Linked DNA regions of Homo sapiens. The protein of the gene in region 3 purifies or fractionates together with the protein of the main gene of each other region. This does not show direct contact. Each region holds a gene or a part of one and is shown on either strand. Other genes may lie near its edges.

The links.
Region 1: the proteins of RFC4 (region 3) and CD58 purify together in Homo sapiens (affinity purification with mass spectrometry; one large-scale study listed by BioGRID and IntAct). This does not show direct contact.
Region 2: the proteins of RFC4 (region 3) and SCEL purify together in Homo sapiens (co-immunoprecipitation; one large-scale study listed by IntAct). This does not show direct contact.

The regions. Positions count from the first base shown.
Region 1 is NC_000001.11:116,568,918-116,572,669, reverse strand, and holds the start of CD58 (lymphocyte function-associated antigen 3), read left to right. Parts: upstream 1-1,643; 5' UTR 1,644-1,697; coding exon 1,698-1,767; intron 1,768-3,752. UniProt on the Homo sapiens protein: Ligand of the T-lymphocyte CD2 glycoprotein.
Region 2 is NC_000013.11:77,534,111-77,537,862, reverse strand, and holds the start of SCEL (sciellin), read right to left. Parts: upstream 2,158-3,752; 5' UTR 2,039-2,157; intron 1-2,038. UniProt on the Homo sapiens protein: May function in the assembly or regulation of proteins in the cornified envelope. The LIM domain may be involved in homotypic or heterotypic associations and may function to localize sciellin to the cornified envelope.
Region 3 is NC_000003.12:186,792,832-186,796,483, forward strand, and holds part of RFC4 (replication factor C subunit 4), read right to left. Parts: intron 1,947-3,652; coding exon 1,827-1,946; intron 117-1,826; coding exon 1-116. UniProt on the Homo sapiens protein: Subunit of the replication factor C (RFC) complex which acts during elongation of primed DNA templates by DNA polymerases delta and epsilon, and is necessary for ATP-dependent loading of proliferating cell nuclear antigen (PCNA) onto primed DNA.

The DNA.
Region 1 (3,752 bases), on a different chromosome or scaffold from region 3:
ATAAGAGTAGAGGCATTGGACATGGCCTCAGCTGGACTCCAAGTTCTGCCCTTTACTGTGTGCCCTGAGTAATTTACCTTCCCCAGGCATCAGTTTCCTCATTTGCAAAAACAACAGCAGCAGTAAGACTAAGTTAATCCAAGCAATGCACTTCACACAGGGCCTGCTCAATAGATGTTTGCTGTCATATCACTTCCCAGCTCAAAAACTTTCTGTGGCTCCCCAGTGTCTGAAGGTCTAACCCCATCCTGCCTTTCTAAGTTGGCCTGAGTTCCTACCAGCCCAGGGCAGAGAACACTTGATTTCCTCATATTTTATGTTACACACTGCCCCTGCCTTGTGTTCCCAGTATCTACAGATGGTAGGGAATATCTCGAGATAGCAGGTTTGTGGTAGAGGGCATTGGTCCCAGAAGTTTCACTGATAGAGATACCTTTTAAGATTTTATGGCTAACTTAAGAAATAATTCATGTCTCTTTGCAATATGGTTCAAGTGTCTTGAGTGACTTCGAGTCCCCACCTGGGGATAATGGAGGTGAAGCAGCAAGAAAGCACATTCCCACTCAGTTTCACAACCTGCACCATGTATGTGTTGGTGGTTATTTGGGCAGCAGGGAGTCCTGTTCATGGAAATGGATTCCTGCTCACATAATAACTAAGAGTTCTGTGAACTCCCTCAGCTGGGCAGGGGCAACTCTGGTGCTTCTGTCTGCAAGAAAGGGGACAGACAGGGAGGCTGATGTGAGGAGCTGGTTCTGGGAATAGGGTCATTTGTTCTGGGATATAGGGATGTGAGGGGAGGGCCAGCTCAATCCAGACTGATGAAGAGCGGGGAGAGTGATGAGTGCCTGCCTCAGCTTGGGCTGGATGGATGTGGGGAGGCTGGGCAGTGAGGGAGATGTGGATCTGACATCTCAGCCTGAGGGAAAGTCCCGGTTGAGATGGGGGAAGACAGAAAAAGAGGAATCTGAGAAGGGAGAAACCAAAGGCTGGAAATCCCAGCTCCGGGGATAAGGGAGTATGGGGACGGGGGAGGCCTGCCTCAGGTAACCCTACGCCTAACAGTTGTCTAAAATGCTCCCTTTCCTTGTCATGTTTGAGGAAAAGTGGTTCAAAGAGGCCGTCTGATGCGGGATCACACAGCGCTGAAGGGATGAGGGGCCCCGGGTGCTCCCGCCCGTCCTGCTGCCTCCTCCGGTGGCTCTCTGGGAGCCACAGCCCCGTCTAGCCACGGAGGGGCCTACAGCACGCCCCAAACGCTAAGGGGAAGCGCGGGAGGTGCGGTAGGAAGGCAGAGAAACCTGGTTTTTAAAACCAAGCCATTTTCAAGGAAAGAATTTCTTACTTTAAAACCTTGGTTTTTAAAACCAAGCCATTTTCAAGGAAAGAATTTCTTACTTAAAAATAGCGTATGGAATGGCGGCGGAATGACGGGAGGGACCGAGCTGGGGGACTGGACGGCGCCCCGGGGACACAGGAAGGAGGCGCGCAGAGCCGAGGCCAGAGGCGCGCCCGGGGAGTGGAAGCGCGAAGACAAACGCGGCGCCGCGGAGGGTGGGGGAGGAAGGGCCGGGGCGGGCCGCCGGCTGCCAGCCCAGGGCGGGGCGGAGCCCTACTTCTGGCCGACCGCGTAGGCGGTGCTTGAACTTAGGGCTGCTTGTGGCTGGGCACTCGCGCAGAGGCCGGCCCGACGAGCCATGGTTGCTGGGAGCGACGCGGGGCGGGCCCTGGGGGTCCTCAGCGTGGTCTGCCTGCTGCACTGCTTTGGTGAGTGAAGCCTGCCCCAGGGGCCCCGCGCCGGCCGGCGGGTACTGGGCAGCACCCAGGCTGGGTGGACGCGCCGGGCTCGAGGCGGTTGCCGATCAGAGACGGGTGGGGACGGGTCGCTGTGGGCCGGGAACAACTCAGCCGTGGGAGCCTTTTCAGGAAGAGAAAGTTGTTATTTCATCGCCAGTGTCCCTCATGGAGTCAGCAAGGAACTGTGTGGCCTTAGGGAAGGACGGGCTCCGGCCCGCTAGCCTCTCCTGCGGGGCCTGCGCCCCCCCGCCGGCCCCCTCCCGAGCTCCAGTGACCAAGTTCCTTCCTGGGCTTCCCCAGTAACGTCGCTGAGCGCTTCAGCGGACTGCAAAATTTTTCCCAGCCGTGAACGCGCCCGGGACGGGGAGCGGGCGCGGATGCCACCTGCTCGAGGGCGACGCCTGCTGCCCTCCCCGCGCGGTGCCGTCCCCGCCCGCGCGGCGTCCGCCGTATCAGCAGAGAGGACTTTTCAGAATCGCCCCACAGCGAGGAGCGGGTAGGCAACTAGGAAGCCCAGTCGGCAGCGGCCTCACGTTGGGATTCCTAAGTGGTGCGACTCCTGCTCCTTTTTCCTCCCCTCAAATCCTAAAAACTAGTATCAGAACTGGTTCCATCCTCTCCGTGTGTTGTCAGCCAAGTCGTCACAACAACCTCAGGAAATAGGTCCCCTTCTTCCCATTTTGCCTCCCCATCCTCCTTCACCCTCCACACATTGGCCCCAGTCAGGCCATAGCAAAACCCCGGGAGTACAGCAGTAACCTCCCAGCGAGTTCAACTGTACTTGAGGGGTTCTCATGGCTGGCTCCTGCACCCCACTGCCAGCCCTCCAGCCCGTCCGTCCGTTTGCTCAGCGTCCGCTGCCTGCCCGGGAGGTGCGCGTGTGCATCTATGGAAGACAGCCAAGGGGGAGGGGTTGAGATAGACTCAAAAGTACCCGCACGATCAGATAAGTCAGTGTTGTAAGAGGCCTGGGCTGGGCGTGGTGGCTTACACCTGTCATCCTAGCACTTTGGGAGGCTGAGGCAGGTGGATCACTTGAGGCCAGGAATCGGAGACCAGCAGGGCCAACACGGTGAAAGATCGGCTCTACAAAAAATACAAAAATTAGCTGAGCGTGGTGGCGCATACCTATAGTCCCAGCTACTCGGAAGGCTGAGGTGGGAGAATCACCTGAGTCCCGGAGGCAGAGGATGCAGTGAGCTGTGATTGTGCCACTGAACTCCAGCCTGGGTGACAGAATATGACCTGTCTCAAAAAAAAAAAAAAAAAAAAAAGGTGAGCTGTGAGGGTACAGAGGGAAGAAGAAGGCAGTCTCTTTTGTGAAATCAAGTGTCTTTTGTGAAGCAGTCTTCATGGGAGGGAGGATATTTGAGCCCAGCCTTCAAGGACTGGTGATGTGTGGACATGTGATAATGTGGGAAAAGATTGCTGAGTGTCCCCTTAGGGAGTCTGGATTCTCTGAGCTGAGAGAGCTTCTCCTGGGCCTTACAGGATCAGGACCATGCGCCTGGGAAGAAGAATCTGTTAGCAACAAAGAGGAAGGCTGCAGTCAGGAGGAATTGGAGGCAGGGAGGCCAGAAGGCCAGGGTGGACTACCATCACAGGGCCCAAATAGCTCTGGGGAGTTCATGTGCGGGTGGCTGGGGAAAAGAAGAGATACAAACAGGGATTAATTGAATGGATGGGGTAACTCTCCTCCAGGCAAGCTGGTCCCTCATTCCCTGGCACCTTGGGTCACTGCTGCCTGTACCTGTGTTCTCCCTTCCACTGCAAACCCAGTTTGCCCAAGCTCCACCTCCAACAGATTATTTGAACTGTCCCTTCCTGGTGATCTCTCTCACCTAATTCATGTATTCATTCAGAAGTCATTTGATTCAGCAAACATGTATTTATAAACTGCTCTGCATAGGCCTTAAACTAAAGACAAGACTGAATGGGTATATCCCCTTTTGGGG
Region 2 (3,752 bases), on a different chromosome or scaffold from region 3:
CTCAGTTAAACAATGTTTGCTTAATTTGACGGCTTCGTGAATTGTGTTCAGTTCATTCCACAGTATGAGCTCAGTCATTCAAAATTTGTTTTGTTTACATAGTCCCCAGGAATATGAACCTCTCAGGTATTTCATCATAATTCTGGTAGTCTGAGAAGGCAGTCAGGTAAGCATCACCTACAGAATGGCATTCGAGGCAAGGGTGTTCTGATTGTACAGACCACAGCTAACACACATACATCAGATCCCCTCCCTGCTGAGGGGCTACTGGCTCCTGAGATGAAAATCTCATAAATATAATAAACGGCAACACTGATTCCATAAGCCACAAGTTGGAAAACGTATTCTATTATGTCTTAGTCATACCATACACACTATAATATTTCCACATGTGCTGGGTAACCACAGTCTGTGATGGAGTGTGGCTCATTTATTGCTACTACATATTTTATGATAAAAAGCATTTGAAAAAATATTGAGAAAATTCAGTAAGACAAAAGACAAGCAATCTGGCATCGTGCTCTGGTTCTGCTACTCTGATCTTCACAAGTTGCTTAACATTTATGCTTTGATTTTCTCAACTAGAAAATTCAGGCATTAGACTAGATGGGCCTATGCTCCGTTTCAGTTGAAATATTCTGTCAATTAGATCTAAGATTTATACGACGCTAACATTCCAATAAAAATTCTGGCCTGTTGTTGGCATTCTATGCATATCCCGACATTTAGGATCATCTGAATGTTTTACTAAAATTTTTACTGTTGTCATTTCTCAGTTTTCTCAAATTGATGTTTCCAATACTTTAAACACTGGAGCACCACATATATTAGGAAGGCTTTATCTACGTTATAAACTATGGAAGTGAAAGACAGTTTTAAATGTAATCACATTTTATGAAAAATAAAATTATCCACACTTGCTACACTTTAGTTTTCTGGTTACTATAAACACTTGAAAGCCAAGTTGTAAAATTCTTCTGTAAACCTTTGGGAAATGAGCACTGGTGTGTCTAACCCCCTCTCAGACTGCAGGTGACCTTGTCAGCAATAGGAAGCCATGAGAACTCAAGTACTACAGATAGAGCCAGGTATGCTGTGGGGGCACCTCTCTGGAGGACACAGAGCTGCAATTTGCAAGCTGTGAGTGGCCCCTGCATTTGAATCCCACAGCTCTGTATCATAAATAGAAATGATGAGAAAAAACACAAGTCAGCTTAGCTATTAATTATAAAAGAAAGCTCTGTTAAAAGAACTCTTCTAGCCTTATCAAAAGTCTCCCAAAACTGGTTTTTCAGGACTAGGCTATGAATAAAGTTTGAAAATTGCCCCCATATACATTAATCACTCCTTAGGTTAGAATGCAGAATATACCATAGAGAAGTTGGCCAGATGCCCACAGATCCCTGTGAGGAACCATGTACCCTTATTCTGCTCCCACACCCTGCCTTTACTCCTTGGTACTTTCAAGTGAGAAATGGTGATTTTCTTATTTGGGGAAGATAGGGTGGAGACAAAAACCTCATAAATATAAACCTCTCTCTCTCTCATAGCTCAGCAACTTGCAATATTTTTAGCAGTAGAGAAAAAAATAAATATGACTTATTAACTATAAAGCAATATTTGAGTTCACTATTTCACTAAAAGCATCATTTATGAAAACAGAAAGATCCTTTAAAAAATGTTTGTATAGTCGCTTGAGAAAATAAACCAGCAGGTGCTGGTCCCTTCACTTAAAGAATTTATTATCCTTTGTGTGGCAGGATTCACCAGCTGACAGCTCCCACCCAGAAAATCAAATAGGTGCTCGTTTCTGTGATGCCCATAACGTGTAAAATTGCCAAGAAGTTCAATGCAATGTGACCTAAAAGTACAGCAAGGAAGAGCAGAGCTAACAGCCAGCTGGAGGCTGTCAAAATTTACAGGAAGAAAAGACAAAGATAATACAGTAAGTTCTAATTTTAATCATTTGTAAGGAACACAGAGAAAGCTGTGCACATACAGCAGATGTATTTCTGTTTGCAAGTATAATTCAACTTACCTCTATTGAGCAGAAAATCAGGACTTTTTGGCTAACCAGCCTGTAGTGATTCCCTGGGAGGATCTGGCTGAAAGAAATGGGAACCTAGAGTTTATTCAGTGGAGTCTCAACCTCTACCTGACTGTATTAGTGAACAGTTCAGAGGTTTCTTGCTCAGCGGCTGAGTCACTCAGGGAGGAGGTGTGTGGTATGCAACAGGGTGTCACCTTGTACAAATACCAGTTCAATTAAAGCATTCTCACTCATATACCTACTGTCTTTGTTTGAATTCTTTGTTTAACTTATGGCCTTATGCAAAAAAAAAAAAAACATATATATATATATGCTCCTGTGATCACCCTTTTAACTGATATCAACAGTATGCACAACCATATCACTGACAAGGTGGCATAGGACCCAACCTATTTTGTATTCTCTTTCAAAAAATAAAATTGAAAACTCAAGATAGAAGGAACCCCCATACACCCATAGTACCTGGAAGGCAGGGGCACAGACAAGCATGCAAGGAGTATATGGCTTAAAGGAATCTTCAAGACAAACAAATTCTCAGAAACCCAGGAACCCTAGGATTAGAAAACACAAAAGAAGTCTGTTCCACACATTCTACACCTAGACTATTTTGTAAAACTATCAGAGGGAAAATACACCTAGCATGTAAGAATTCTAATCTCTATCTTATTTATCCATGTATAAAAAAATGTGAAAAGGGGCCAGGCGTGGTGGCTCACATCTGTAATCCCAGGACTTTGGGCGGTGGAAGCAGGCGGATCACCTGAGGTCAGCAGTTCAAGATCAGCCTGGCCAACATGGTAAAACCTGATCTCTACTAAAAATATAAAAATTAGCTGGGCGTGATGGCACACACCTGTAACCCCAGCTATATTAAATAACTATAACACACCATGATAAAGTCATATACAGAAATTTTCAATGCCAGGCATCGCATAGTGGAGAGAAGGAAGAACCTGGAAGGTGATGTTGATGCAGAGTTTTAAAGTCTGAGTGGACAATGATTAGATGGTCAAGAAGAAGAAGAACCATTCATCCACTCTGGCAGGAGGAGGCAGGAGAATCACTTGAACCAGGGAAGTGGAGGTTACAGTGAGCCAAGATCACACCACTGCACTCTAGCCTAGGCAACAGAGTGAGACTGTCTCAGAAAAAAAAAAAAAATGTGAAAAGGATGGTTGAAACTTCTTTCAATGCTGAGGGCAGCAGTAGACCCAACATCAAAGGCTGCTTCTGGCCAGTTGCAGTGGCTTTCACTTGCACTTTGGGAGGCCAAGGTGGGAGGATCACTTGAGCCAAGAAGTTCGAGACAAACTGGGCAACACAGTAAGAGAAGATCTCATCTCTACTAAAAATAAAAAAATCAGCTGGGTGTGGTAGTGCATGTCTTTGGTCCCAGTTACTCAGGAGGCTGAGGCAAAGAGAGTCTCTTGAGCATGGGAGGACCAAGCCACAGTGAGCTGTGATCACACCACCGCATTCCAGTATGGGTGACAGAGTGAGACCCTATCTCAAAAAACAAAACAAACAGACAAAAAAAACAAAAAAAACCCAACAAAAAACAAAGGCTGCTTCCGCTGGGAGGAAGGAGTAACACTGAAGAGCCATTCTAGGCGGGGACTCCTGTTACAGGTTTTGAAACACACCTTCCCTAAGAGCCAAAGAGGCTTTAAAGAAGCTTAGCAAACATTGTTGAGAGAAGCCA
Region 3 (3,652 bases):
ATCGGGTGGTTTTCGACTCCTTCTCCATGGTACGTCTTAAAGCTGCCTGAGCAGCTGAGGTCATAGAATCTGCTTCATCCAGAATCACAATCTTAAAAGGCGGACACGGCTTCCCACTGATTCAGAGAAACACATAAGAGTTGAACATTAATATGTATATTGGTTTTAACAGCTTTGTTGAAAGATACACGTACCATACAATTCACCCATTTAAAATGTACAATTCAGTGTTTTTCTGTATGTTCACAAAGTTGTGCAACCATTACCACAATCTAATTTTAGAACATTTTTATCACTCCTAAAAGAAACTTTGTACCTATTAGGAGTCACTCTTCTTCCCCCAGTCATTCCCAGCTCTAGGCAATCATTAGTCTACTTTCATCTCTATAGATTTGCCTATTCTGGACATGATATGAATGGAACATATAATATGCAGTCTTTTGTGGCTGACTTCTTCCACTTAACATATTTTAAAGGTTCATCCATATTGTAGCATGTGTTTGCGTCATTCCTTTGTATTGTCAAATACTATGGCAAATAGATACACCACATTTATTCATCCATTAATCGGTTGGACATTTGGGCTGTTTCCATGTTTTGGCTATTAAGAATAATGCTGCTGTGAACATTTGTGTACATGTTTTTGAGCAGACATGTCTTCCAAGAGGCTGTACCATTTTACATTCCAACCAGCAATGTATGCGGTTTACCATTTCTCCACATCCTTGTCAATGCTAGTTATTTTCTGTATTTTTTATCATAGCCATCCTAGTGGGAGTTACGTGGTATTTCAATGTGGCTTTGATTTTCATTTCCCAAATGGATAATGATGTTGATGAGCATCTTTTAATGTGCTTATTACACATGCACGAAATGTCTATGCAGATCCTTTGCCTTTTTTTTTTTTTTGAGATAGAGTCTTGCTCTGTCGCCCAGGCTGGAGTGCAGTGGTGCGATCTTGGCTCACTGCAAGCTCTGCCTCCTGGGTTCACGCCATACTCCTGCCTCAGCCTCCCGAGTAGCTGGGACTACAGGCGCCCGCCACCACACCCAGCTAATTTTTTGTATTTTTAGTAGAGATGGGGTTTCACCATGTTCGCCAGGATGGTCTCGATCTCCTGACCTTGTGATCCACCTGCCTCGGCCTCCCAAAGTGCTGGGATTACAGGTGTGAACCACTGCGCCCGGCCTTTGCCCATTTTTTAATTGGGTTATTTGTTTTTATTACTGAGTTTTTAAAGTTCTTCATATGTTCTAGATATAAGTACCTTTTTAGGTATATGATTTGTAAATATTTTCTCCCACGTTGCGGGTTATTACCTTCTGTACATTGATTTTTGGTAATCTGCCATTAAAGTTTTTCTCCCACCAAAAGTGGCATTAACATAATTGTATGAAAATTATACCAAGAAAACAGATTTCAAGTATTAATGGTAGAAGGGATCTCAGAGTCTTTTAGTCCACCTCCCAGTCTTCATTTCACATAAAAATACATTAGGTGCTATAGCGGTTGTGACTGACTGCACCATCAATTTAAGGTGCATATCAAAAATTAGTCATTCACTTTCACAAATTTTGAAATGTGCTCATGTAAAATTTACACATATGTCTAGGTACCACCAATGTAATCCTGGACCTTTGCCACCTAAGGAGCATAAGTAGTTGATTAAATCCCTGTTTACCTCAGGCAGGATAGTCTTCTAACATGAAAAGTTGACAATTTGGCAGAAATACACTTGATCTTAGCCAAAAGGCTGAGGAGCGATGGCAGAAATACATATTTAAAATAATACATGCTATGGAGGAGGGAGGGCAAATTTACTTACTCTGAGCGACTTCCTGACACAGTTAATTGAGCAAAATTTTTCACTTTCTCTCGAACTACTTGTATTCCACGTTCATCAGATGCATTTAACTCAAGAACTCTTAATCGGAAAAGTTCAGGCCTATCTCAAAATGAAACAAATATGAAACATAGAGCACAAGTAGGCTTAAATCACATTTTAACATTTGCACACTTTGCAGACGTTTAAAATCCACCTAGTAAACAACATGGATAGAAGGCACACAATCACTTTTGCATTCTCGCTTCAGCAGAGTGCTGCAGTTAACATTTTGGCTTTTTTCCATGCATTTAAAAAAATGTAGACATTACATAACATATACAATTTCTTTTCTTTTTATTTTTTTGGAGACAAGGTCTTGCTCTGTCACTCAGGCTGGAGAACAGTGGCATGATGATGGCTCACTGCAGCCTTGAACTCCTGGGCTCAAATGATCCTCCCACCTTAGCTTCCCAACTAGCTGGGACTATAGGCACATGCCATCACACCTGGCTAATTTTGTTTACTTTTTGTAGAGGCAGGGACTCATTATGTGGCCAGGCTGGTCTCAGGTGATCCTTCCACCTTGGCCTCCCAAAATGTTGGGATTACAGGTGTGAGGCACCACACCTGGCCCCACATATAAAATTTTAAATCGATTTTCCACTTTGCATTTATAATAAGTATCTTGGCATATTATCAAAACCACTGTAAATAACATTTTAATAGTCATATGATATTCCATCCTATGACTGTACCATCATTTACTTCACATTCTTCTATTGTTAGACATCTAGATAGTTTTAAATACTGTAATTTTAAATAATGTTATAATATAGCACATTTTAAATTATTTCCGGCCGGATGTGGTGGCTCATGCCTGTAATCCCAGCACTTTGGGAGGCCGAGGCGGGTGGATCACGAGGTCAGGAGTTCGAGACCAGCCTGACCAACGTGGTGAAACCCTGTCTCTACTAAAAATACAAAAATTAGCTGGGCGTGGTTACAGGCACCTGTAGTGCCAGCTACTCAGGAGGCTGAGGCAGGAGGATTGCTTGAACCCGGGATGTGGAGGTTGCAGTGAGCCGAGATCGCACCACTGCACTCCAGCCTGGGCAATAGAGCGAGACACTGTCTCAAAAATAAATAAATAAACAAATAAATAAATAAATTCCACAGGGTAGTTTGCTATAAGGAAACCTACTGGATTAAGGAAAATTAATGGATTAAAACATGAGCAGGTTTTTAAAGTGAGTTTTAATAAAAATTACTAAAAGTAATATATGCTTACTGTAGAGAAATTTGAGAAATCAAAAGAAAAAAGTGGGCACACTGTCAAAGCACTGTTTTTGAAACTTCCCTCTAGTCTTTTACACACACACACACACACACACACACACATTTAAATAAAAAACAAGAGTTGTGATTTAGTTTCATCTCTATTTTTCCTAATCAGCATGGTATCCTAAGCATGTTTATGGACATAAACATTTACATGCATCTATTTTCTATTTTAAAGCCACAATATTAAATATGAAATTCACTGTTAAAGTAAGTTCTTTAAAGACAAACATTATTTCATAAAGGATATAGAAAAAGTTGTATAATCTGGACTGACCTACTCTAAGTAATAATAAACAACTGTTAAGGCTGATTCAGATTGGTTCTATCTGATTGAGTTGTGGAATAATCAAAAAAGTTCTTCTATAATTTTACTGAGAATAAAAAATTGCTGTCAAATAAAATATTAGGCACATAGCAGCTTCTCCCTTTGTCTTTTACATTTTGACATAACTAATAATCCTTACACATTTGGTGATTTCAGTGGC